Homo sapiens: one gene and its partners. The protein of the gene in region 7 interacts with the protein of the main gene of each other region in a pairwise test. Each region holds a gene or a part of one and is shown on either strand. Other genes may lie near its edges.

Evidence for each region.
Region 1: the proteins of SPRED1 (region 7) and MICOS10-NBL1 interact in binary tests that used the Homo sapiens proteins (3 or more experiments, as listed by UniProt).
Region 2: the proteins of SPRED1 (region 7) and CXorf38 interact in binary tests that used the Homo sapiens proteins (3 or more experiments, as listed by UniProt).
Region 3: the proteins of SPRED1 (region 7) and TRIM74 interact in binary tests that used the Homo sapiens proteins (3 or more experiments, as listed by UniProt).
Region 4: the proteins of SPRED1 (region 7) and NR1H3 interact in binary tests that used the Homo sapiens proteins (3 or more experiments, as listed by UniProt).
Region 5: the proteins of SPRED1 (region 7) and ARPP21 interact in binary tests that used the Homo sapiens proteins (3 or more experiments, as listed by UniProt).
Region 6: the proteins of SPRED1 (region 7) and PPTC7 interact in binary tests that used the Homo sapiens proteins (3 or more experiments, as listed by UniProt).

What each region holds. Positions count from the first base shown.
Region 1 is NC_000001.11:19,648,979-19,652,478, forward strand, and holds part of MICOS10-NBL1 (neuroblastoma suppressor of tumorigenicity 1 isoform a precursor), read left to right. Parts: intron 1-3,500. UniProt on the Homo sapiens protein: Possible candidate as a tumor suppressor gene of neuroblastoma. May play an important role in preventing cells from entering the final stage (G1/S) of the transformation process.
Region 2 is NC_000023.11:40,634,062-40,637,561, reverse strand, and holds part of CXorf38 (uncharacterized protein CXorf38), read left to right. Parts: intron 1-405; coding exon 406-555; intron 556-849; coding exon 850-1,029; intron 1,030-3,500.
Region 3 is NC_000007.14:72,962,967-72,966,466, forward strand, and holds part of TRIM74 (tripartite motif-containing protein 74), read right to left. Parts: intron 3,210-3,500; 5' UTR 3,192-3,209; coding exon 2,793-3,191; intron 1-2,792.
Region 4 is NC_000011.10:47,264,496-47,267,995, reverse strand, and holds part of NR1H3 (oxysterols receptor LXR-alpha), read right to left. Parts: intron 84-3,500; coding exon 1-83. UniProt on the Homo sapiens protein: Nuclear receptor that exhibits a ligand-dependent transcriptional activation activity.
Region 5 is NC_000003.12:35,688,025-35,691,524, reverse strand, and holds part of ARPP21 (cAMP-regulated phosphoprotein 21), read right to left. Parts: intron 2,219-3,500; coding exon 2,140-2,218; intron 1,445-2,139; coding exon 1,385-1,444; intron 661-1,384; coding exon 520-660; intron 1-519. UniProt on the Homo sapiens protein: Isoform 2 may act as a competitive inhibitor of calmodulin-dependent enzymes such as calcineurin in neurons.
Region 6 is NC_000012.12:110,576,819-110,580,318, forward strand, and holds part of PPTC7 (protein phosphatase PTC7 homolog), read right to left. Parts: intron 1-3,500. UniProt on the Homo sapiens protein: Protein phosphatase that plays an essential role in mitochondrial metabolism and biogenesis. Positively regulates biosynthesis of the ubiquinone, coenzyme Q. Dephosphorylates the ubiquinone biosynthesis protein COQ7 which is likely to lead to its activation.
Region 7 is NC_000015.10:38,346,836-38,350,335, reverse strand, and holds part of SPRED1 (sprouty-related, EVH1 domain-containing protein 1), read right to left. Parts: intron 915-3,500; coding exon 813-914; intron 1-812. UniProt on the Homo sapiens protein: Tyrosine kinase substrate that inhibits growth-factor-mediated activation of MAP kinase. Negatively regulates hematopoiesis of bone marrow.

The DNA of each region.
Region 1 (3,500 bases), on a different chromosome or scaffold from region 7:
CCAGGCAGTGGCTGAACGCTAGGGTGTTAACAGGAATGAGAGGCGCAGTCGGCTGGGGCAGTGGTGGGAGCTCCAGGCCTCATCCTGACTCCAGATTCCATCGTTTCTTGCTTCTTTCTCTTCGGTGAACCTTTTGACCTGCAAGGGTAGCTGGGGGTTAACCTGCTACCCTCCAGGTTCAAATCCCGGTTCTCCTGTTTACTAACAGTGTAAGCCCAAGCAGATTTCTTGGCCTCTCTGTGCCTCAGTTTCTTCATCTAAAAATGGGGGAAAGAATAGGATCAGGCAGTTATCATAGGACAGAATAAATTAATATCCAGTCACACACCACACAATGATGAACCACGTACACAATGGTGCTGCCATAAAATTATTATTATTATTATTATTATTATTTTGAGATGAAGTCTCGCTCTGTCCCCCAGGCTGGAGTGCAGTGGTGCAATCTTGGCTCACTGCAACCTCTGCCTCCCGGGTTCAAGTGATTCTCCTGCCTCAGCCTCCTGAGTAGCTGGGACTACAGGCATGTGCCACCACACCCGGCTAGTTTTTGTATTTTTAGTAGAGACGGGGTTTCGCCATGTTGGCCAGGCTGGTCTCGAACTCCTGACCTCAAGTGATCTGCCACCTCGATCTCCCAAAATGCTGGGATTACAGGCGTGAGCCACTGCGCCTGGCCTCCCATAGAATTATAATACTGTATTTTTACTACACCTTTTCTTTCTTTCATGATTGTGTAGTGGCATGATCCTGGCTCACTGCAGCCTCAACCTCCCAGGACCGAGTGATCCTCTCACCTCAGCCTCCCAAGTAGCTGGGACCACAGGCATGCACCACCACACCTGGCTAGTTTTTAAATTTTTGTAGAGATGGGATCGTCTTATGTTGCCCAGGCTGGTCTTGAATTCCTGAGCTCAAGCAATTCTCTCACCTTGGCCTCCCAAAGTGCTGGGATTACAGGTGTGAGCCACCATGCTTAGCCTACTTTACGTTTTCTTTTCTTTTCTTTTCTTTGAGACAGAGTCTCGCTTTGTCGCCCAGGCTGGAGTGCAGTGGCGTGATCTCGGCTCACTGCAAGCTCCGCCTCCCGGGTTCACGCCATTCTCCTGCCTCAGCCTCCGTGTGTGTTACAGTGACCTACAGTATTTAGTACAGTCACATGTGGTCCAGATTTGTAGCCTAGGAGCAATGGGCTATGCCATATAGCCTAGGTTTGTAATAGCCTAGACTATTCAGGTTTGAGTTCACTCTATCACCTAATGGCACATTTCTCAGAGTGCATCCCCATGGCTAACTGACGCATGACTATAGTTGCGCTCTTATATTTAGTTCAGAATTCAGAACCTCTGCTTCCCTCCTGAGAGCCATCTCTGACTGTGCCAACTCAAAACAACTGCCCCCTATTTACCCACATCCCTGGACCTCCCCTCAGGGGAGTGTCTGAGTGGGCATAGGGTCTGTGCCCCCAGCTCCCTGCCCTCACCCTTGCCTTTCTCCCCACCCTCCTAGAAGTGAGTGAGTGTGGAACTGCAGGGCCCTGAACGGCCCAGGGCAGGGCATTGCTTTGCCTGACTTGCTGGGGGCCTTGGGACAGCCCCTTGCAGAGCAGGGAGACTTGGCTGGGAGATCTCCAACTTTCCTTCCCGCCCTCGCTTTTGGGGAGTCCCATGACTTGCTGTGTGACCTTCAGGGCGGGAGGAAGGGTTGAGAATCTGGGTGAGGCTCTCAAGGCTCAGGAAGGAAAGTACGATCGCTGCTTAAAAAAAAAAAATAGATTAGTTGCTGCTTGAAAAAACAAAAAAGCGTAAACCAACAAAAAAGCATAAACCAACAAAAAAAGAAAACCTGCTAGCCAAGAGCCCACCCCACCGGTGGGGGCAGCCTGGGCTCTTCGGGGCTGGGCAGGAGGGTGGGCGGAGGCAGGTGTGTCTGGATGACAGCCGTGTGTGGGAGAGACTTCATCTGGCATCCTCGCTGCCTCCTGTTCCAGCCCAGCCTTGGCTCTGATGCTGGCCCAGCCTTTCCCATGATCCCCTGGGGGGAAGAGAGCTGACCTTAGTGGGTGCCTCCTAGGTGCTGAGTACCTTCATTTACTCCTCCCAATTCTTCTCCAGGGAAGGTGCAATGCTTCCCATGTTAGGGTTGAGAAAGGCAGTTTCTGAGGAGTGAACTTATTTCTGGAGTCACACAGCTCCTAAGGGGAGGGGCTGCAGTTCAAACACTGGGGACTCCAGGGTCCACGCTTCCAGGGGGAGCCCGGGGAAAATGCTGGAGCTCCACGCTGCTGGCCCGGGGAGGCCGAGGCCCCAGCGCCCTGCGGAGAGCCTGCTAGGGCCTGGTGGGTTGGGTTATAGCACCCCTCTGTGGACACAGCTGGCCCTGTGATAACCTCAGCTGTGCACTGGAAAGGGTGGAAGGTAAGGAGGGGGCCTTCTGCCTCAGTTCGTCTCATTTCTCCTAACCTCTGTCCCAGCCTGACGCTGATAACCAGTTCCTGATCTCTGGGCCTGCAACCTCTTCCAAAAAGTCACCATTACCCCATTTCCCAGTAAGCCTCCATTAGCCTCAACCCCAGTCTCAACACTCGGCTTCAGCCTAGTTGTGACCCACAGCCTCGGTTGTGACCTCTCCTAATTCCAACTCCAAGTGCTCACCCCAGCCTCCCTCCCTCCCTCTGTCCCTCCCTCCCTGCCTCCCTCCCTCTTTTCTTTCCTGTCCTTTTTTTCCCTTTCCTTTTTGACAGGTTCTTGCTCTGTCACCCAGTCTGGAGTGCAGGGACGCAATCATGGCTCACTGCAGCCCCAAGCCTGGTCTCAAGCCATCCTCCCGCCTCAGCTTCCCACATAGCTGGACTACAGGTGCACATCACAATGCATAATGTGATAATAAAAAATGTGTTATCACAGTGTGATAATAAAAAAATATTTTATTTTATTTTATTTTATTTTGAGACCAAGTCTCACTTTGCTTCCCAGGCTAGTCTTGGACTCCTGAGTTCAAGTGGTCCTCCCGCTTTGGCCTCCCAAAGTGCTAGAATTACAGGTGTGAGCCACCATGCCTGGCCCAGGCTACTTGCATTACAACCCCAGTCTCAATTCCAAATCCACATCACTTTCTGCCCCAGTCACCTCCCTGGCCCCCTGTGACCTGTTGTTCCTGAGGAAGCAAGATGGGGTCAGATATAGGAGGACAAGAGTCCCTGGACCTCTCCTAAGGGTCTAGGGGGCCAGTCCAGCCCAGGGAGCCCTGGCCTTAAATGGACCTCCAGGACCCTTCAGGTGTGCTGTGGGCAGACCTGACTCAGGAGTGAGGAAGCCGCCTGCATGCCAGGCTTGTTGAAAAATTCACTGGGTTGCCAGTTAGGGAGGAATCCATTCTATTTTGTTAGGATGTGGTTGTACTGGAAACATGGGCTTTGTCAGCAAGACCGGAAATGCGTGGGTGAGGGCCTGGATCGTGACAGGAACTCATTTGGGAGGCGGCGGGGGGGCAGCCTGTCC
Region 2 (3,500 bases), on a different chromosome or scaffold from region 7:
CCCCTTGAGATAGGGCCTCTGCTCCCCAGTTTGCCCTGAACCAGTCTTTTAGTAGGGAGATGACTCCTTACCATTACACATGGCCAGCTTCCCTCAGGCTACCTGCCTGACCTTTGAAGGCAAAAGGAGACCTTCACTTCTTGGTGTCTGCCCTCTAGACAGGATGAAACTAAATGTGGATCCAACTTGCGGGGCTGGAGGGCTGAAGTGTCCTCCACTCTGATACAGGTACATGCCAGATTATGCCCATGATCCCAAGAAAGTTCCAGTCCTTCTCATCTGAAGACTGCTCTTGTTGATTTTATAATTAACAAAGCCTCTCTATGATTTTTTCTTTGGAGTGAAAGATCTCAGTTTACCCCATTGTTTGATTTTGAAGCCTTTTATCTTTTTGTCTTTCTGCAGGTAATTAAATGTCGTAATGAGATCATGCACTCTTCAGAGATGAAAGTATCTTCTACGTGGCTTCGAGATTTTCAGATGAAGATCCAAAATTTTCTGAATGAATTCAAGAACATCCCAGAGATTGTGGCAGTATACTCCAGAATAGAACAGGTAAAAATCATGTTTAATAGTTCTGGCATACAGAATGAAGAGAGAGAAAACAACAACAGCCACACATTTAGAATTTGAAGTTTATTAGATTTAACCTAAGTGTTAGAATGTAAGCAGGGGAAAGAATGCCAATATGAAATCTGTAATTATGCTGGGCTGAGAAGCTTTTCTGTGGTCACAGTGCACTATTAATATGGATCCAGTTCATTGTGTTTAATTATAAATTATTTGAGTAATTCAGTGGAATGCCTTCTTCATGAAATCAGTTCATATATTTGTGTGGCAATCCCTCAGCTGTTGACGTCTGACTGGGCTGTTCACATCCCCGAGGAAGATCAGCGAGATGGGTGTGAATGTGAAATGGGAACTTACCTGAGTGAGAGCCAAGTCAATGAAATAGAAATGCAGTTACTAAAGGAGAAACTTCAAGAGATATATCTTCAAGCAGAAGAACAAGAGGTGTTGCCTGAAGAGGTAAAAGAAAAGTGTTATAGGCTCTGTGTGAGTTAACAACACAAAGAAAGATTCTGGGGAGGAAGAGTAGCTCATCTTAACAAATAATTAATTGTGTTTTTGATTTATAAGTTAAATAATTTCCAGAAGTGTGAATATGCTTTTGGCACAGAGTAATATTACCTCTTAACAAATATTTTCACTTTCACATCAGCAAACATTTGAATGCCTAATCTGTGCCACAAAGTGGAAAAATGTGATAAAGGCTACAATAGAATTCTGAAAAAAATGCTCTAGACATTCTCTGCTGGTCAGGTGGATTGCCAAAAAAGATTTTGCCAAGAAGATGCTGTTGAGCTGTGGCTCACAGAATCAAATAAGAGTCTGACAAATTGGCAAGAGAAAAAGATTCTTCTTGGCAGAGGGCACAGTACTTGCAAAAGCAGGAAAGGATAGTCTGAGCCTGGGCAAGAACAGGTGAGCACACGAGCTATGGCCAGGTTTGTGGATGGTAAAGTGGGCTGGAGCCACATGCCAAAAGGTTTTCTAGGCCATGCCACGGGGTTTGGGCTTCATTCCCAAAAAGCAGTCAAGAAAGGGAGATAGGATCAGATATAGCTTTTAGAAAGTTAACTCTTGTGGTAGTTGGAGGTTGGATGAGTGGCTAGCAATTACCCAGAAGGCTCTTGCAGTCGTGTGAAGGTGAGAGAGAACAGAAACTAGGGGCTGTGGAGGAACTGGATTCTGGAGGCAGTGCCTGAGCAGAACCGATGGATATTGGTGGCCAGGGAGATTACTTGGAGCATGGCATGGGGCTGGAAAAGGGTGGAGAAGGTGGGGAGAGGAATGTTTAAAGGATTATCAATGTTTCTAGTTTAGGACCTGCAGACTAATGATGGTCTAAACTCCCAAGTACAGGAGAAACAAATCTCCTTTGTCACATGCAAGGTATAAAAGAAATTAACAGTAGTAGAATTATATTCCAGTAAGGTTCAGAAATATTTCAGCACTGGCTGGATTAGACTTCTAGATCACCAGGAGATATTGGAAAAATCATTTCACCTCTCCATTCCTCCTTGTCCAAGGAAAGTAGTTTTGCTGGTTACCTCATTAAACATAGGGAGAGTTTATTAAATGCAAATTCACGGAGCTGTGCTCCTTGCAGATAACTATGCCTGTATTAACCATTCCAGCTTTGATCCAGGTGCTTTATTCAGCATGGTGAGCCCCTTTAGCACAAGGGCTTGGTACCCCTGGTTTTTTGGGTGTGCCCACCATGGTACACCATAGGTATTTAAAATGATGTATTAGAATGTTTATCTTCTCTTTTCTAAATCCATGTGTTTGAGTTCCTCTGTCTTTATTTTATAATGCCATTAGAGCCCCAGTTTTCTTTCTGCTGCTGTTTTCAGAAGCTAGAGCCAGGATTTTGTGTCAGTTGAGAGCTGGAAGGGAACCTGGCAGTCATCTTATATCCCCTGCTTTGCATGTGAGGCAAGGGCCCCAAGGAGCTTGCACTGGGTCTGAGGGCTGGCCCGCAGGTCTCCCCCTTCTGATCCTGTGGCTTCCCGCCTGCTGTGCTGCAGATCTTATATAATGAGGAGCTGGCAGCTGTACGTTTTGAACCCCCATTATCTGTTTTACAGAAAGGAAATAGGGATTAATTGGCTTGTCTTCTGGGTGGAGTCTCTAGGTGGAGTTGATAAATTCTCATTTTTCATGCTTTCTCTTCAGCAGACCATGGCATTTCTCATAATATTTCAGTTGGTCAAAATGTGAGGATTGATTGGCATGTTACCTCAAAAAAGTTGGAGGTCAGGTTTCCACATATATGAAATTTGACGTCTTCAGAAAGTTCAGTACCCTATATGATTTTCCATCTTCTTTAGGGTTAGTTGCCAAAGTCAGAGGATTTGTTAGGACCAGATTTCAATGAATGTAAAATGCTGTCAATTGTAAAACATACCATTATTTCAGTTACTTCTAAGAAAGAAAAAATAATGCTGCCAGTTTATTACAAGACACTATCAATGGTAAGATGCATTCTCATTTGAGACGTTACAATAGGAAAAAGTGTGCATCCCGGGATCAGGAAATACAGTGATTATATTATGACCCCAGGACTTTTGTTATAAATGTTATCAAGACCTGTTTCTTGTTTTTGTTAAAACAGTAGGGGTGAAGGCGAGGTGCAGTGGCTCTTGCCTGTAATCCCGGCACTTTCAGAGGCCAAGGTGAGAGGATCACTTGAGCCCAGGAGTTTGGGACCAGCCTGGGCAATGTAGGGAGACCCCATCTCTTAAACAGACCAACCAGCCAAAAAATGTAGGGGTAGGGTTAGAAAGCTAAGTTGAGAAAAATGATTGATGGTGGTAATTCAGTGTGACAGCTCCTGCAAACACATCATGGAGTGCCACAGAGAGCTCACCATCTCCACAATTTTCTATTCGTTTGGTGACCCTTAAAGGTATAGCACATTAGAAAAAGTGGGC
Region 3 (3,500 bases), on a different chromosome or scaffold from region 7:
GCTCACACGGGCCTGGGTTTAACCTGGTGAATCCCCACACCTATAAACACCTGAATCCATTCCTGGTGGGCTTGGACACAGCACGGATTTGCGACCTCCCCAAGCTGACATAAATGCACTTCTCCTGGACTGCCCGGGCCCCAAATCTGACCTAGCCTTGGGGGTGCCAACCAGGACTCCTGGACCACCATCTACTCCATGACTTGACCAGAGCCCCCGTCGGTTTATACCCATGCAATGTACAGAATTTTTGGCTTGGATCGTGCCCAAGCACCAGAGAGCTGCAAGGGGCTTTCAGGAAGGGAGTTGGGTAAAGAATCAAGCACTTGCTGGCATAAACGGACAGAGTCCTTGCTCTGGAGAATGAGGCATCAGAACATCTCACAGAGGCCTAAGAACAGCATTCCAATGTCACCCTCCCCAGGCAGACAGACGGGACTCATTCCTTCCCCGTGAGAAGAACTAAGTTATGCAAATCAATGCACCCATCAATCGAGCATCTCAAGATCTCAATAAACAGGAGGCAACGGGAACACCTTAAAGAGGGCAATAAAGGAGTGCAATTTAGTTGTATTCTGTGTTGCAACAGAGAAGAGCCTCGGGATCATCAAAACCCAAATCTGGCCGGGAACAGTGGCTCATGCCTGGAATCCCAGCACTTTGGGAGGCCGAGACGGGAGGATCACTTGAGGCCAGGAGTTTGAGTCCAGCCTGGACAAAATAGTGAGACCCTGTCTCTACCAAAAAAAAAAAAATTAAGCCCAAATCTAAAACAGGGACCCAAGCTGAGCTGCTGGATCCTAACTACAAAGGACAGACAATCTCCCAGCCTGTTCCCTCCCTCCTTCCCATCAACTAATAAAACATAAACTCGGCTTCCTCACCTGCAGTTGGCTTCCACCTTCCATACTCCCCTAAACCTGCTCTTGCCAAGATAATCAGTTCTTACTGCTACATTTAACACTTTTCAGTCCTCAGAGACATTTCACACACGTGATCTCCTCCTTCAGTCTGTCTCTCTGATTTCCGGGAGGCCACACTCAGCCGGTGTTCCTGCTCTGAGGATTCTTTCTATTCCTTTTTCAGGGCTCTCTCTCTCTCAATCCAGATTTTAAGCCTGGTACCCCTTGGGGTCATCATCAGTGTCTTCCCTTATCACTATGTAGACTCTCCTGGGTTGGTCTTCTCCACCAAAGGGGACTTCAGTGACCACCAAGAGGAAGGACCCTCCACACCTCTTGCCCTGAGCCCCACCGCTGTCCTGGTCTGCACACCCCTCAACCCGACTGCACATCCCCAGGCACCTCCCGCTCCACCTGCCCACGCCGGATCCTCCCCTGCGATCACTTCCTCTGTGCAAGGGGGAATTACAGAGCTGGAGTCAACCTCCCCATCCCTCACCCTCCTTGCCACACACAGTTGTCAGGGTTTTTTTCTGTTTGAAATTTGTCTTTGGTCTGCCCCAGGCCTTTGTCCCAGTTCCCACCAACTTAGGTCCTGGCACCTTCATCTCTCACTGTCCTTTTGCCTCACCCTCAAAGCTCCCCTCTGCCAGAGAGATCTGAGCATGTCATCACTGGCTTAAAACACTCCAGCCCCCGCCTTTCTCCCTCATCCTGTGAATAAACTCCAAATCCATTCCCGGGTCACACTGGCCTCTCCATGCCCCAGCCGCAGCTTACCTCGCTGGCCCTATCTCGCCCCCACCCATGCTCCCTCCAGCTTTATGCTGGGATTACAGGAGTGGCCACTGCGCCTGGCCAACCAGGCTAATTTTGAAACTTTTGTAGAGGCAGGGTCTCACTATGTTGCCCAGGCTGGTCTCAAACTCCTGGACTCAAGTGATCCACCCACCTCGGCCTCCCAAAGTGCTGTTATTATAGGCATAAGCCACCCAGTCACGTGTTTTATAACAGGTGTTTTATATATATAACACCCAGTCAGGTATTATTATTACTCATCTTAAAGAATGATCTGCTAGGTTTGGTGATGGCCTATAAAGGCAGGAATTCACTGATTCAGCATTTTGGACATTTACAATGTGCCAGGCATGGCTCCAGGCACTGAAATACACCAGGGGACAAAATGAAGTCCCCACTCTCATGCACCAGAGAGTGCAAACAGGGGAGTGTCCAGACACAAACAAGGGGCGTAGGGCAGTGGTGCATGCCTATAATTCCAGCACTTTGGGAGGCCCAGGCAGGAAGATCGTTGGAGGCCAAGGAATTCAACACCAGCCTGGGCAACATAACCAGACCCCATTTCTACAAAATATAAAAAATGAGCTGGGCATGGTGGTGTGCACCTGTAGTCCCAGCTGCTCGGGAGGCTGAGGTGGGTGGATTGCTTGAGCCTAGGAGTTGGAGGCTGCAGTGAGCCATGATCACACCACTGCACTCCAGCCTGGGCAACAGAGTGAGACGCTGTCTCCAAAAAGAAAGAAGAAAAAGAAAGGGGGGGCGGGCGAGGGAGGGGGAGAGAGAGAGAGAGGAAGGGAAGGGGGCGGGAGAGAGAGAAAGAAAAAAAGAAAAAGAAACAAACCAGAACTGCAAACAAAAAACAGGAAGGGGTGAGCACGTGACACCAGGGAGCTCCCATCCTGTGCGTGTAGCTTCAATCCCCAGCACCTGGGTTTAGCTGCCGCTCAAACACTAAGGAATGAATGCGCCAGGGCAGGGCTGCAGGGAAATCGAGGATAGCTGGATCCGTTTTGGTGCCAGTTGATAGCGCCAGAGAGCACAGGATCCAGTCCCCGCGGGCCCCGCCGCCCCGCCTGCACCCTCACTCCCCACCTTCATGCGGCTGCAGACGGTGGAGACGGGCGTGACCGGGTGGTGTTGGTGGGAGCCCAGCAGACCGCAGAGGCCACAGATGAGCTCCTGGTCCTTCTCGCAGAAAAGGCTGAGCGGGTTCCGGTGGTGCACGCAGACCTTGGGCTCCGGGTCCCCAGGGAGCCTCAGGGCTTCGATCACCCAGGCCAGGGAGACGTTGGGCAAGGAGCTGCTGCCGTCCACCACCTGCCAGCACATGGGGCAGCGCACCTTGGTGTCCAGGTGGTAGGACAGGGAAACCAGGCAGCCCTTGCAGTAGGAGTGGCCGCACTGTAGCATTAGGGACTCCTTGAAGACCTCCAGGCAGATGGGACACTGAAGCCAGTCCTCCAGCTCCAGCAGGCTCACCTGCCAAGCCATCCACACTCACTGCCCGGGCTGAAACACAGGCATCCGACCTCAGTCCTGTCCACTCCCCTCCCCCTGTCCAGCACTCACCCACCACCCTCAACCCTAAGGAGCACCAGAATTTTATAAGAAACACTTTGAGTCCTGGATCCCAGTCCTAACCCACATGACCTTGGGCCTCAGTTTCCACAGCTGTAAAACAAAAGACTGCAGTGAAAAAACTGGTCCCTTGAAGATACGTGTGTGTGTGTGTGTGTGTGTGTGTGTGTGTGTGTCTACATTTTTTACTCAAATTTGGAGACAAGCATGAAAGGGGCCATC
Region 4 (3,500 bases), on a different chromosome or scaffold from region 7:
GGCAAACTCGGCATCATTGAGTTGCAGCTCATTCATGGCCCTGGAGAACTCGAAGATGGGGTTGATGAATTCCACTTGCAGCCCTGGGGAGGAAGAAGGGAGGCTGACGCAAGCAGCAGGAGCAGCAGGAACTTTCTTCTCTCCTCACCTTAGGGAACTATTAGGAACTCACTAAGAAGTTTACTGAGGCCGGGCACAGTGGCTCACGCCTGTAATCCCAGCACTTTCGGAGGCTGAGGCGGGCGGATCACCTGAAGTCAGGAGTTCGAGAAGAGCCTGGCCAACATGGCGAAACCCCGTCTGTACTAAAAACACAAAAACTAGCCGGGCGTGGTGGCAGGTGCCTGTAATCCCAGCTACTTGGGAGGCTGAGGCAGGAGAATTGCTTGAACACGGGAGGCAGAGGTTGCAGTGACCCAAGATTGCACTACTGCACTCCAGCCTGGGCGATAGAGCGAGATTCCGTCAAAAAAAAAAAAAAGGTCTACAAGGCTTTGCTGTGTAACCTTGAGCAAATGTCTTAACCCCTCTATAAGCCTCATCTGTGAAATGGGAATCATATCTGAACCCTTCTCAGAAAATTGTTGGTATAGTTCAATGACAAAGTATGCAGGGCACTTAGCGCTGTGTCTGGCACACAAGAGGTGCTGAATTAAATAATAATTCTGGTATTCTTGTTTTTTTTCTTTGAGACAGGGTCTTGTTCTATCACCCAGACTGGAGTGCAGTGGCACAATCACAGCTCACTGCAGCCTCGACCTCCCGGGTGCAAGCCATCCTCCTACTTCAGCCTCCCTAGTAGCTGGGACTACAGGTGCATACCATCACAAGTAGCTAATTCTTATATTTTCAGTTGTGACAGGATTTCACCATGTTGCCCAGGCTGGTCTCGAACTCCTGGACTCAAGCAATCCACCCGCCTCGCCCTCCCAAAGTGCTGGGATTACAGGCACCAGACACCATCACCTGCCAATTCTGTCATTAAAATTCTTGAGGGCTCCACATTTCTAGAAATAGAGGCAACTCTTATTTTTGTTTATCAAGAATCGTTTTTCAGCAAGGCACGGCGGTTCATGCCTGTAATCCCAGTATTTTGGGAGGCCGAGGCAGGGGGATCACCTGAGTTCAGGAGTTTGAGACCAGCCTGGCCGACATGGCAAAACCCTGTCTCACTGAAAATACAAAAATTAGCTGGGCGTGGTGGTGCACTCCTGTAATTCCAGCTACTTAGGAGGCTGAGGCAGGAGAATTGCTTGAATCTGGGAGGCGGAGGTTGCAGTAAGCCGAGATCACGCCACTGCACTCCAGCCTGGATGACAGAGCGAAACTCCATCTCAAAAAAAAAAAAAGAAAAAGAAAAAAGGCTGGATGCGGTGGCTTATCCCTATAATCCCAGCACTTTAGGAGGCCGAGGCAGACGGATTGCCTGAGCTCAAGAGTTTGAGACCAGCCTGGGCAACACAGTGAAACCCGGTCTCTACTAAAAATACAAAAATTAACTGGGCATGGTGGCGCACCTGTAGTCCCAGCTACTCGGGAGGCTGAGCAGGCGAATTGCTTGAACCTGGGAGGTGGAGGTTGCAGTGAGCCGAGATTGTTCTACTTGCACTCCAGCCTGGGCGACAGAGCAAGATTCTGGCTCAAAAAAAAAAAAAATCCTTTTTCAGCAGGGCACGGTGGTTCACACCTGTAGTCCCAGCTACTCAAGGAGGATCACTTGAGCCCAGAAGGTCGAGGCTGCATTGAGCCATGATTGATCACACCACTGCATTCAGCCTGGGCGACAGAGCGAGACCCTGTTTCAAAGAAAAAAAAAAGACTTGTTTTTCACTGGCATTGGCCTTACTTATTTGAACACTAGAGATACATTTCATGTATCACATCCTCGAGGGAATATTGCAGTATGGGTGAGGATGTGGATTTTGGTGCCAGACTGCCTCGGGTTGAGTCCTGCCTCTACCACTTACAAGGCAGTGTGACCTTGTGTAAGTTATTTAACCTCTCTGGGCTTTGGTTTTCCCATCTGTAAAATGGGAATAATAATAGTACCTATCTCATAAATATGTGGCATATATGGTAACTACCACATAAGTGTTTGTAAAATAAATAAAAAAATTTTTTTTGAGACAAAGAGTCTTGCTCTGTTGCCAGACTAGAGTGCAGTTGCATGATCTCGGCTCACTGCAAGCTCTGCCTCCCAGGTTCAAGCAATTCTCCTGCCTCAGCCTCTTGAGTAGCTGGGACTACTGGTGCATGTCACCACGCCCAGCTAATTTTTGTATTTTTAGTAGAGACAGGATTTCACCATGTTGGCCAGGATGGTCTCGATCTCTTGACCTCGTGATCTGCCTGCCTCGGCCTCCCAAAGTACTGGGATTACAGGCATGAGCCACCGCGCCTGGTCAATAAATAATACATTTTTCTTGGAAACAGTCTTCCTGCTGAGAAGACTAAAATGCAACAAAACATGAGCTAAAGTAATGATACCTAGAGAATGTCTCTCATACACATTGTCAAAGTCTCTGCACCCTACAGAGTTCCCCAGGCTTTGTCAGATTTCTTTTAGCAACCATCTGCTACACTTTTCCATTCAAGGCTTCTTGGTGAGTCACTTCCTGTACTTTCACCCTGATGTTTATCAAGTGTTGTGTGTTGGTCCATTTAATGGGCAGGCCCCATTTTCTTTTTCTTTTTTCTTTTTTTGAGATGGAGTCTTGCTCTGTCACCCAGGCTGGAGTGCAGTGGCGCGATCTCAGCTCACTGCAACCTCAGCCTTCTGGTTCAAGCAATTCTCCTGCCTCAGCCTCCTGAGTAGCTGGGACCACAGGTGTGCACCACCACGCCCAGCTAATTTTTGTATTTTCAGTAGAGATGGGGTTTTGCCATATGGGCCAGGCTGGTCTCGAACTCCTGACCTCAGGTGATCCGCCTGCCTCGGCCTCCCAAAGTGCTGGGATTTCAGGTGTAAGCCACCACGCCCGGCGGCAAGCCCCATTTTCTAAAGCATTTCTTGGTGAGGTTTTGAGCCCCAAAGTGTGGCAAACAGCCCCCTTTATAGAGAAATTAAGAGGAGGTTCTATAGTTAGCTAATGCACCTCTGAGGGTCTGCTGATGCCCACGGAATGAACACCTCAAATGTGCTCAGTCCATGTCACCAGTTATCTACTGCATGCAGTAAATAGTAGCGGATAGGGAGGGGAGGAGACTTGACAAGCAGAGCTCCTGTTCCTTCTCCCCAAGACCTCACTCATGAAATAAGAAATGCAAGCATGATTACTTCAAAACTGCTTGTATAAATAAATCTATGAATAGGTGCAGATTCAGATAGCATGAGTCTACAAGTGCCAAAGGAATACAAAGATCTTAGAACTGGGCAGGGTTCCACAAGGAGGATATTCTGAAGGAGGGGAGAGCCACGGTTAAGAAGGTCTGAGATAATAACCATCGAGGAAAAAGTGGTTTGGAAGAGGGGAGCAGGGCTGGGCTTTAAAGCTGGATAA
Region 5 (3,500 bases), on a different chromosome or scaffold from region 7:
TTTAAATGACTTGCTCCAAGTCACACAACTAGTAAGTAGAATTGGGTTTTAGAGGCAGGATTTCTGCCTCTAGGTTCGGAGCTTTTTATTACTCCAGAAACTACAATAAGATAGATGTCTAAAAAAGCAGAAGAAAGAAGAAAGAAAATAACAATTATTCTGTGTATGTCATGGTCATTTAAAAATATCTATTGTTTTTAATTTAAGTTATATTTTGACAAAATTTTTCACAGCTTTGTATGTAATTTCATAGAGTACTGATGGAAGAAAGAAAATTATGTTTCAGGAGCTATGTAAAAGAGCAGGAAATAAATCCACTTTATTGTCTGAATTTTATAAACTTTCTTGGTTCTCAGATAATCTTCTACAGATAAATGCCACACTACTTCTGATAAGAGCAAGAGATAAATAACACTGCACATTTTAAATGTCATGTACTGTGAATTTTATACTGTGATCTTATAAATGAATCCATAGGAGAAAAAGAAAATGCTAAATAAGTACAGTGATGGGGCTTACATTCTGGTGCTGCTGGTCTTGTTGATGATAACAGATTTTCCTGTTTGATCCACATTGTGATCCAATCCAAAATAAGCTGCCACTCGATGGACAAGCATCCTCTGATACGATGACATCTGAGGGAACTTTTTATAATGATTACTAGAACATAATTCAAGAAAAAGTGGAATCAGCATTTTCATTTTTTGCCCATAATACCTTTTTACAAGTATACACACAAAACTATTTCTTCTTCATCTAAACCACTAAGCCTATTGCATTTCTGGCATCACTTAATGTCCTAATTTCTAGAAAAATTTTCTACTTATTATAGATTTATTGATTAAGCCACAATAAACATCTTTGTTTCATAGTTGCACATTTCTCTTGCCAAAGAGAATGTAATGTCTGTTGGACAGTATTGTATTTTAGTCCATGATACCTTATCAACGGGGCCAGGCACAGGACAAATGATGTGACATAATACGTGATTGCAGATGTCTATATGGAGATGTGTCATTACACGGTTTATACTGAAGCAGCACAATTATTTCCAGGCATAACTGACTGCAGCCAGCTGGAGCCCATTAAAAAACTATAATAAAAATGAAAAGGGTCTCTTCTTGTTACAGCTACTCTATGCTAATCAGTGGCCCACTGTTTATAGCCATTTTGTCAGGAATTTAACAAGCAGAAGCACACATGGTCCAAGCAACAATTCTCATCAGCGTATAGTCCTAACTCCAATAATGTCTCCATTTAACAAATCAAGGAACATATTAAACAATGTTTTGTCTATCCCTAAGTCTTTCCAGAATGGACAATTTAACTCCAATACCAAACTAGGATACATGATCAAATTAACCAGCATTGAAGTTTAACATACTTGTTGTCAGCAATGAAATCAATAATTTCCTGCTCCATTTTCAAAAGTATCATCCTGTCCCTGCAAAATAAATGTTAAATTTAAAAGGTTTTATGTATGTTCCACTTCCAAAAACCTAAAGAATTAATTAAATGTATGGAAAAGATTACTTAAATGTATGCTGCTACAAACTTATACCTAACTCTTCTTTGGAATATGCTGACCATTTACATATTATTTCATTTCATTCATTACAATTTATTTCATTGTTTAAGAGTATTCCTTATCTTATTTGTTAAGTATATTGAAATATCTAAATTTTGTAGTCTTAATGTTAATTATGGCATGCAAAGTACTAGGATCAAAAAACCCATCAAATAAATAGTATATTTCAAATAAATAGGAAACTGGAACAAAACGAAGGCCAAGTATTGACTGTAAATGAATACATAGCTGCATTAAAACATAATTGGCTTATTTGACAACAATAATTTTTATTTGCTATTTTTCCACCTTAGCCAGTATCTCTTTGTGATCTGAAAAGCAGAACTGTTAAAGTATAATTTATTAATTGGGTAACTACCCAGTTACTAAGACTCTCTATAAAAAGTAAACATGCAAACGATTAGTAGAAAAAAAATACAGGAGACAGTTTAAGACGTCAGGGAAGGTATCTGCATTTCACAATGGCTTTCTTAGAAGTGTTGGATTAATAACTTTGATTGTAATATTCTATTTGATCCTTCTAAAAATAAGAGGCTCATTTAATAATTTACCTGGAATTATTCTTTAATGTGTTAATCAGAAACTCGTGTAAGTCTATGCCTGTAGAATCCGTGTATTCTTGGCTGCAATCTGAAACAAATAGCAGGACGGAGCTGTCAGGAATGATGGTGGAAAGGTGGGGTAGAAAAGGTTTCCCCAACCTATCCTGTTTCCCCCTGCTCAGATAAATTTTAGGTGAAGCTGTTGGTATAAAAATACATGTTTCAAAACTAGCAATCTGGCAATATAACATCAGAATGAAAATTAGATTCCGGGATTGAAAACACCCAATAAATCCTGAATATGGAAAGATCCAAATGTCATAGGAGGGGAAGTGGGCACAGTCTGGGTGTGGGGGAGAGGTGGAGTCAAATATCACGTGTTCATTCTGCATTGTAAATAACAAGGGCACAAACCCCACATGACAGAACTCCCACCTACAGAGAGAGCTCTCAAGAGTTTGAGATCCCATGGAACCCTTTTTCTCTTAAAACAAAGAAGGCAAAAAAAAAAAAATGAATGTTCTGTTATGAGACTATCTATTAATCGGTACAAAATACAGGAGGACACTAAATATTCCCAAGACTTTTAAATATCCTAATGCTGTCCAAAGCTTAATTTCTAAAACTGTTTTAGAAACCTGAACTTCTTTACTGTCATATACACCTTGGATTTTAGATATTCCTCAGCAGAAACAACAATTATAAGCAGATGTATGGTTATAGAACACATAACTGTTAGAGGCGGTTGTCATTTCTCAGTTGACCAGATGCTCTATTCTTTCCCAGTTGTCCAGTTTGTTTGTTTGTTTGTTTAAGTCTACTGCAAGCCTGTTTACTCATGGTACTCTTCATTTCAACTTAGTTTTGTTTTGTACCATGATAGGTATGGCAAAAATTTGGACAGTTTGGACTGTAGGTTTTGAGTTTGTAAATGTATGACTTTTTGCACAGTGATTTATTGAAGTAGAAGTGGGTATTTCTTAAATAAACATTACTTGATAGTAGATGGGTTCAGAGACTAAATTCTGAGCCAGATAAAATGTGAATCATGTATTCCGTTGACATATACATCTGTACTTTGGGGACCATATCACTTATGAACTGAGAATTGCTAATCCACTCTCTGTCTTTTAAGATAAACATGAGAGTTAAGATATCAAACTTGGTATCATTACTGTTCACCAATCCAAGTTAATCGGTCCAAGAAACCTAAATTTAGGGCAGATTTATATTTATTCCTTGTACAAGCTTGTCACTGAAAACAGAAGATTAAAATGTGAATCCAAAGAAATATGTGATCCTAAAAATAACCTGTCTAGCAACACAAGTAATGACACTATAAACAGAAAGAAAATCAAGTTCACATTTTT
Region 6 (3,500 bases), on a different chromosome or scaffold from region 7:
CACTTTAAAAGGATACATGCTATGGAATGTGAATTATACATATCAGTTTTTAAAAATTCACTCAAGGGGCTGGGCACGTGGTTCACGCCTGTAATCCCAGCACTTTGGGAGGCCAAGGCAGGTGGATCACCTGAGGTCAGGAGTTCGAGACTAGCCTGGCCAACATGGTGAAACCCCGTCTCTACTAAAAATATAAAAATTGGCCAGGTGTAATGGTGGGTGCCTGTAATCCCAGCTACTTGGGAGGCTGAGGCAGAAGAACTGTTTGAACCCAGGAGGCAGAGGTTGCAGTGAGCCAAGATCGCGCCACTGCTCTCCAGCCTGGGCACAAGGGCGAGACTCTGTCTCAAAAAAAAAAAAAAAAAAAAAATTCACTCAGGGTCATATTTGCTATCAACAGGTAGATGATGCTGGAATCTGACTTTAAGAAAATTATGGCATGTCCTGCACATGTATCCTGGAATTTAAAAAAAGTAAAATTAAAAAAAAAAAGAAAAAAAAATTATGGTAATATAATGAGAGTGGTGTCCTGACATGGCTTGAAATCTAGCTGAGGAAAATTCCAACAAGGACTTCTTGAAAGACTGAAGTCAGTGGGTGCACACACACACTCTGAAGGTGACTACTTTTTTAAAAGGACAACTCACTTTCAGAATAGAGGTTCTATAAGTACATTAAAATGATCATGACTGTTTGAAAACACCAAATTCTACCTCATCCATTCACTTCCTAAATATAATTTAGATCTTAATTTTGTTCATATGATCTTTACACCTCAAGACAACTACTTTTAAGACTGACATTACTCACAAAAACACTTCAAAATCCTGACCACGATCAAAATCAGATCCAAAGGCTGGGATATGAAATTATTTTAATTTCACTTTTAGGTTTCAAGTTTAAGCTTAAATAAACATCCCACAGTTTCATAATAAATACTTTACAACTCAATATTCAGAGGTCAAAATTTATATGGCACAGACCAGGCTGCCATTTTTAAAATAAGTGGTTTCTCTAAACTGTGGTTTAGCATGCAGAGGAGTTTTTGTTGCACATCAGTTATGAGTCAGAGTGAATAAAGAAGTTATAAACACACACACACACACACCCAGGAAAAGCATTCGAAGCACAAAAGTATCAGGAGACTGACTGGTTTTTAATTCACATATATCATCAAGAAAACTTGACCAGTGGTCTAACGGGGACAGGACTGGGAAAGGGAGTCTCAGATGAGAGACTGAGATAGGTGTCAGCCTCAGTTCCACCAATAACTAGTAGAGTAACCTTGGGGAAGTCATCTGACTCTCTGGAGGCCTGTTTTCTCATCAGTGAGGTGAAAAAAACTAGACTCCAAGGTTTCTAAGTGTTACAATTCTCAACAGTCTTTGATTCTATTGTTAAGTAGCATAAGGCTGTGGGAAGCCCAGGTATTACAACATGCAGTTCTCATATTTTTGTGCACCTAGGAAGCCATGCCACGTAGAGTAATAAGAGAACTCAGAATTAGCCACAGGGAAGAAGGAACAAGAAAAGTGTACACGGCTCCCGCTAGTACTGGTTTACTCCTGTTGGACCTAGTAAAGAGAAAGCACCTTTGACAATTTTCTAGAGAATGATAGGAGTGGTTCCTATGTCTCACCACACCCAACATAGTCAGTTTTTCCGAAACGAAATACAGTGGGGACTATACAAAATGTTGTGAAGCACCAAGCACTATTAGTCACTGCATGACTAATAGGACAGATCAATTTTAAATTAAAGAAACAAAAGAGATTTCTCTTTCTCATATAAAAAGAAAGAAACAGCTTTCATTCCAGTCAAGGAGTCCTAGATGACCACAGTGAATAATCTGTTACACGGATACTCAGTAATAAATATGGTGTCAATTCAAAGAAAATTAATTATCTACAGAACCAAAAGGTTCAAAAGCACTTAAGTTCAACGTAACGTTATTACTCAACATAGCCTTTTAATGTAATTCAGGTTGTAACTCCAACCTCTAGAGTTGACAGCAGTATTAAAGAGTCATTCAAAGTCATCACCTTAGCCAGACACTGTGGCTCACACCTGTAATCCTAGCACTTTGGGAGGCTGAGGCAGGTGGATGACATGAGGTCAGGAGTTCGACACCAGCCTAGGCAACGTGGCGAAACCTCATCTCTACTAAAAAAATACAAACAATTAGCCGGGTGAGGTGGCACATGCCTGTAGTCCCAGCTACTCGGAAGGCTGAGGCACAAGAATCGCTTGAAGCTGGGAGGCAGAGGTTGCAGCGAGCCAAAATCGTGCCACTGCACTCCAGCCTGGGTGGCAGAGCAAGACTCTATCTCAAAAAAAAAAAAAAGTCATCACCTTTTACGGTATCAACTAAATAGAAGTCACCATCATATGAACTGGTTCAGGACAGCCAAGGATCAAATGAGGCCAACTCATGAAGTTATTTCAGGTGGCTTCCAAGACTGCCGTCCGGAAGAGCTCCTCCACAACAGGACAGTCCTGGAGAACCTGTCCTTCACTGCCCCTATCCCCCACCATTTGCATATGTGCATGCTTGATCTTTGTCAAACATGGCTAACAACCACCTTTTGGTCACATCAGCTACCAGTATCTGACTGTGTCTGCTGGCATTCCCTTCAAGGGTACAGAGCTGGGGTTCTTGATCTGATTCCTATGCATGGACCTCCAGGTGGTATCAGAGGAGTCATGGAGTCAGCAAAGTTCCTAAGAGCCCATGCAAAATTTTATCTCTGTGCACAGGGTCCTGATCCTCAGGGGTTGTGAATCAAGGAAAGCTAAAAACCACTGGTTTAGTGCTACATACAAAACAGGAATCTACTGAAGGTGCCCGTGACACCTGTCATTTGAGGTGCAGAACAAAGGGTGCCATCTATTCAAAGCAAAAGTAAAATATGGGCTGGGCGCGGTGGTTCATGCCTGTAATCCCAGCAGTTTGGGAGGCCGAGGCTGGTGGATCACCTGGGGTTAGGAGTTCGAGTACAGCCTGGCCAACATGATGAAACCCCGTTTGTACTAAAAATACAAAAATTAGCCGGGCGTGATGGCGCGCGCCTGTAATCCCAGCTACTCAGGTGGCTGAGGCAGGGGAATCACTTAAACCCGGGAGGCGGAGGTTGCAGTGAGCCGAGATGGCGCCATTGCACTCCAGCCTGGGCAACAAGAGCGAAACTCCATACCCGCACCCCCCACCCACCAAAAAAAAAAAAGAAAAGAACAAAAGAAAATGTGATATGATGGTCAGAAGCTGTAGTCACTAAGGGTCAGATCGTCCATTCCCTTTATCCCCTAGTCCAGATAAACCAAAGGAGACTCAAGAGAGACTCTGCCCAAGACCACAAATCACAGAGCTACTAAGTGGCAAAGCTGAGCATCAAAGTTCACTGGATTTCCACCAGGATGTCAGGGCATGAAATTATGTTTATACTTTTTTAGAATGGGTTTGACCAAAATCCCCCCAATTCTTGTAAATATCCCACTCCATT
Region 7 (3,500 bases):
GACACACAGAGAAAGACACCAGGGATGTACGGGCAGAGGAAAGAGCATGTGAGGGCAAAGTGAGGAAAGACCATGTGAGGGCAGCTACCTGCAAGCCAAGAAGAAAGGCCTCAGAAGAAACCAAACCTACCAACAACCTTGATCTTGAACTTCTAAGAATTGTGAGAAAATAAATTTCTGTTGTTGAAGCTACCCAGTCTGTAATATTTTGTTGTGGGAGTCCTAGCAAATTAATACAAAGACACACATGTGTGTAGCTTGGGTACACAAAAAGTCTCTGAACAATGACGTAAAATACCCCTACTTCCACAACCCTTCTGGGAAGGTTGGTTCTTTGAGGCCAAAGAACAAAATTAAGTCTTTTGACCCCTTACATCATCCATAAATGCAGGCTTCTAAGTAGACAAATTTGTATCTTTAGCTCCAGTCCCTGGACACAGTGACTAGTCTACTACAAGTAAGCATCTGACTCAGTTTGGGGCAAACTTCTATTTCCTAGATACATGGAATTAGGGCTAAGAAAATTCTAGGTCTGAGCTAAAGGTGGGGTGACAGATACAGTTTATTTAATTAACAATATATAATTCCTTTTGGTCCTATCTAATAAATGCAGCTCTGGCAATCTTTTAGACTCAAATGAGAAGTTTGCAGAGTTTTTAACTAACAGCGTTTAAGCACATAGGCAGCAAATTTATACAATGAAAAATTTTCTAGTACAATTCAACTATATGGAGAATTAGAAAGACTGGAAAACTTTACCTATCTATTAATTAGTTAAATTCCATATCACAAGATAAACTAACATTACTTACCCTATTTTGGGACTTTAGGCTTCCACATTCCTTGGATATTTGCCGCTGTACGTATTCCATACTTCTGCTCTGAATGTCCAAGCCTGGCTGACCAAATGTTATCTAAAATACAAACAATTTCTACTTAAATGACACAAGAATTTTACTTTTAATGAAACTGTACAGTGTATGTTCCAAAACCTCATAATTTATTAGCAGTAAAGTTTTTCAAAAACGGTTTTGAGAATAAAAATAGAATCATTTCCCCCCACCTAAAACACAAACAAAAACCATAGGTCTTTTCTTACATATTTAAACTTTAACAAGTAATGAATACATAGTCAAAAAAGTACAAACAACCCAAATATTCATCAACTAATGAACGGATAAACAAAATGTAGTAAATCCATAGAGTGGAATATTATTCAACCACAAAGAGAAATAAAGTAGTTACACATGTCACAATAATGGTTGCCAGGGGCTGGGAATAGGGAAGGAGGGGCAATGACTGATAATCAGTGTGGGTTTTTTGGGAAGTGATATGGAATTTGATACTGCTGATGGCTGCACAATCTTGTGAATATAATAAAAACCACCAAATTACATACTTTTTTAAAGGATGATTTTGTGGTAGGTGAATTATATAGCAATAAAAAAATAGGAATCTTTAGTGTCCTGATACATTTACAAGTGTTTCGAATTGCAAAGCCCATTTCAGACCTAAATTATAGCTAGAATATATCAATGTTTAATTTTTAAAATTTTATGGTGAAAAATTCTAATATACATAAAAGGAGAGAATAATGTTATGAATCACCATGGGTCTATTATCTAGCTTCACTTATCATCAACATTTTGGCAATCTTGTTTACTTCTTATTTTTCCAGATAATTTTGAGCCAACTCCTACTGTTACATACTTAATAAACACTATAACCCTGAAAATAAATAGTAATACATGCAGATAGCAAAATTTTCAAATAGTATAAAAGCACATGAAGTAAAACTCTTCCTTCCATCTTAGACCTTTCAGACCCAGTTTTAAAAGTTAACTATCATAAAAAAAATTTTTTAGTGCATTCCTCCAAAAATTTTTACACACACAGACACACACACACACACACACACAGATCTTTAAAATAGGACCCTTTGTACTGTGCCCTTGGTCTCTGCATTTAATGATACAATATGGAGGCCATTCTATGTTTATAAGTAGAATCTGTAAGAATTTAGAAATTAACAAGAGGAAATAACTATGGATTAAATGGTCTGGGAAGGCATGAAAGGAAATGCGACTTGAAGTAAACACAGAATAAGCTAGATATTTGGTCAAGTGAAAAAAAGAAAAACAGAAGAACATTACACAAAAGGAAGCAGAGAGAACAATTTTTTTTCCTGATAGAACACAATGACCTCAACTAGTATATTAAATATACATTTCTAAGAACTATTCTAAAGAGTAAAAATGTCAATTTTCTCACCACTGTCTCAGAAAAAAGTCACACACACCACTTAAACACATACACACTTTGAAAACTACCTGAGTCAACAGGGTCTATGAATATTAGTTCTCTCACACAATCTCTAAGTGAAAAGACAAATAAATGGACAATATTGACCTTTTCACACTTACTAAAAACAGATGTGATAAGATACACCCCAATTAATTTCTGCTTTTTAATACCCTCAAAATTTGGTACTTTTGCTATAATCTTCAGGAAAATTTATCAGCTGAAAAAGTCATAAGAGATGCTTCTTCAAAGCTGGTCACAATTAAAATTTTAAAAGGATTCCATTTATAATAGAACAACAAAAATGGTACAAAGAAATAATCCTATAAAATATGTATTATCTTTTCACAAAGAAAATACAAAGTTTTATGTAAAGATACAGAAGAAGAGCTAAACAGAGGTATATATCATATTCACGAATAAGATGATAAATTATCCCCTAAACTAACACACACATTCAGCGCAATTCAAATATAAACCACAAAAGGATTCTTCATCAGATTTGACAAGCTGATTCTAAATATTTTAAAAGGGCAAACAGCCAAATTGAAAAAAAAAAAAAAAAAAAAAAAAGATCCAAGCGGGAAAACAAAGTTAGGCACTTTCTCTACAAATATTAAGTTATTATAGAGCTACAGCATTTCTACAGTAAAGATGACAATGTGACACTAATTTAGATTAGAGACATCAGAAACAGACTCAAACATATATAGAGAATTGATGTGTCAGATATGGTACTGCATATCAGTGCGGGGAAAGGCTCCAATAAACAGTGCGGGGACAATTAGTAACCTATGTGGAAAAAATAAAATTTGGTCCCTACCATAGAAGAGAAATCAAATTAAAGTGGATTAAAGACAAAACTTTAAAACTTTTAGATTAGGAAGAAAATCTTTAAGATGAGGATAGGGAAGAGTCTGTAAAAATAATGAGAAATGATAAATTCAACTGCATTAAAATTTATAATGTCTGCTCACCAAAACACCACAAAGAGTGAAAAATAATCACCAACTAGGAGATACTAGCCACAAATAAAACTCAGAAAGATCTGAATCCAGAATATACAGGGAAGTAACACAGAACATTTGATTACCTAGTAACAAGGCCATATGAAAGCATGCAGTTAAAATCCATTTGTAAAGGAACAATCACAGTTATTTCCGAAGTCTTTCAAATACTCAATACATATCCCCTGTAGG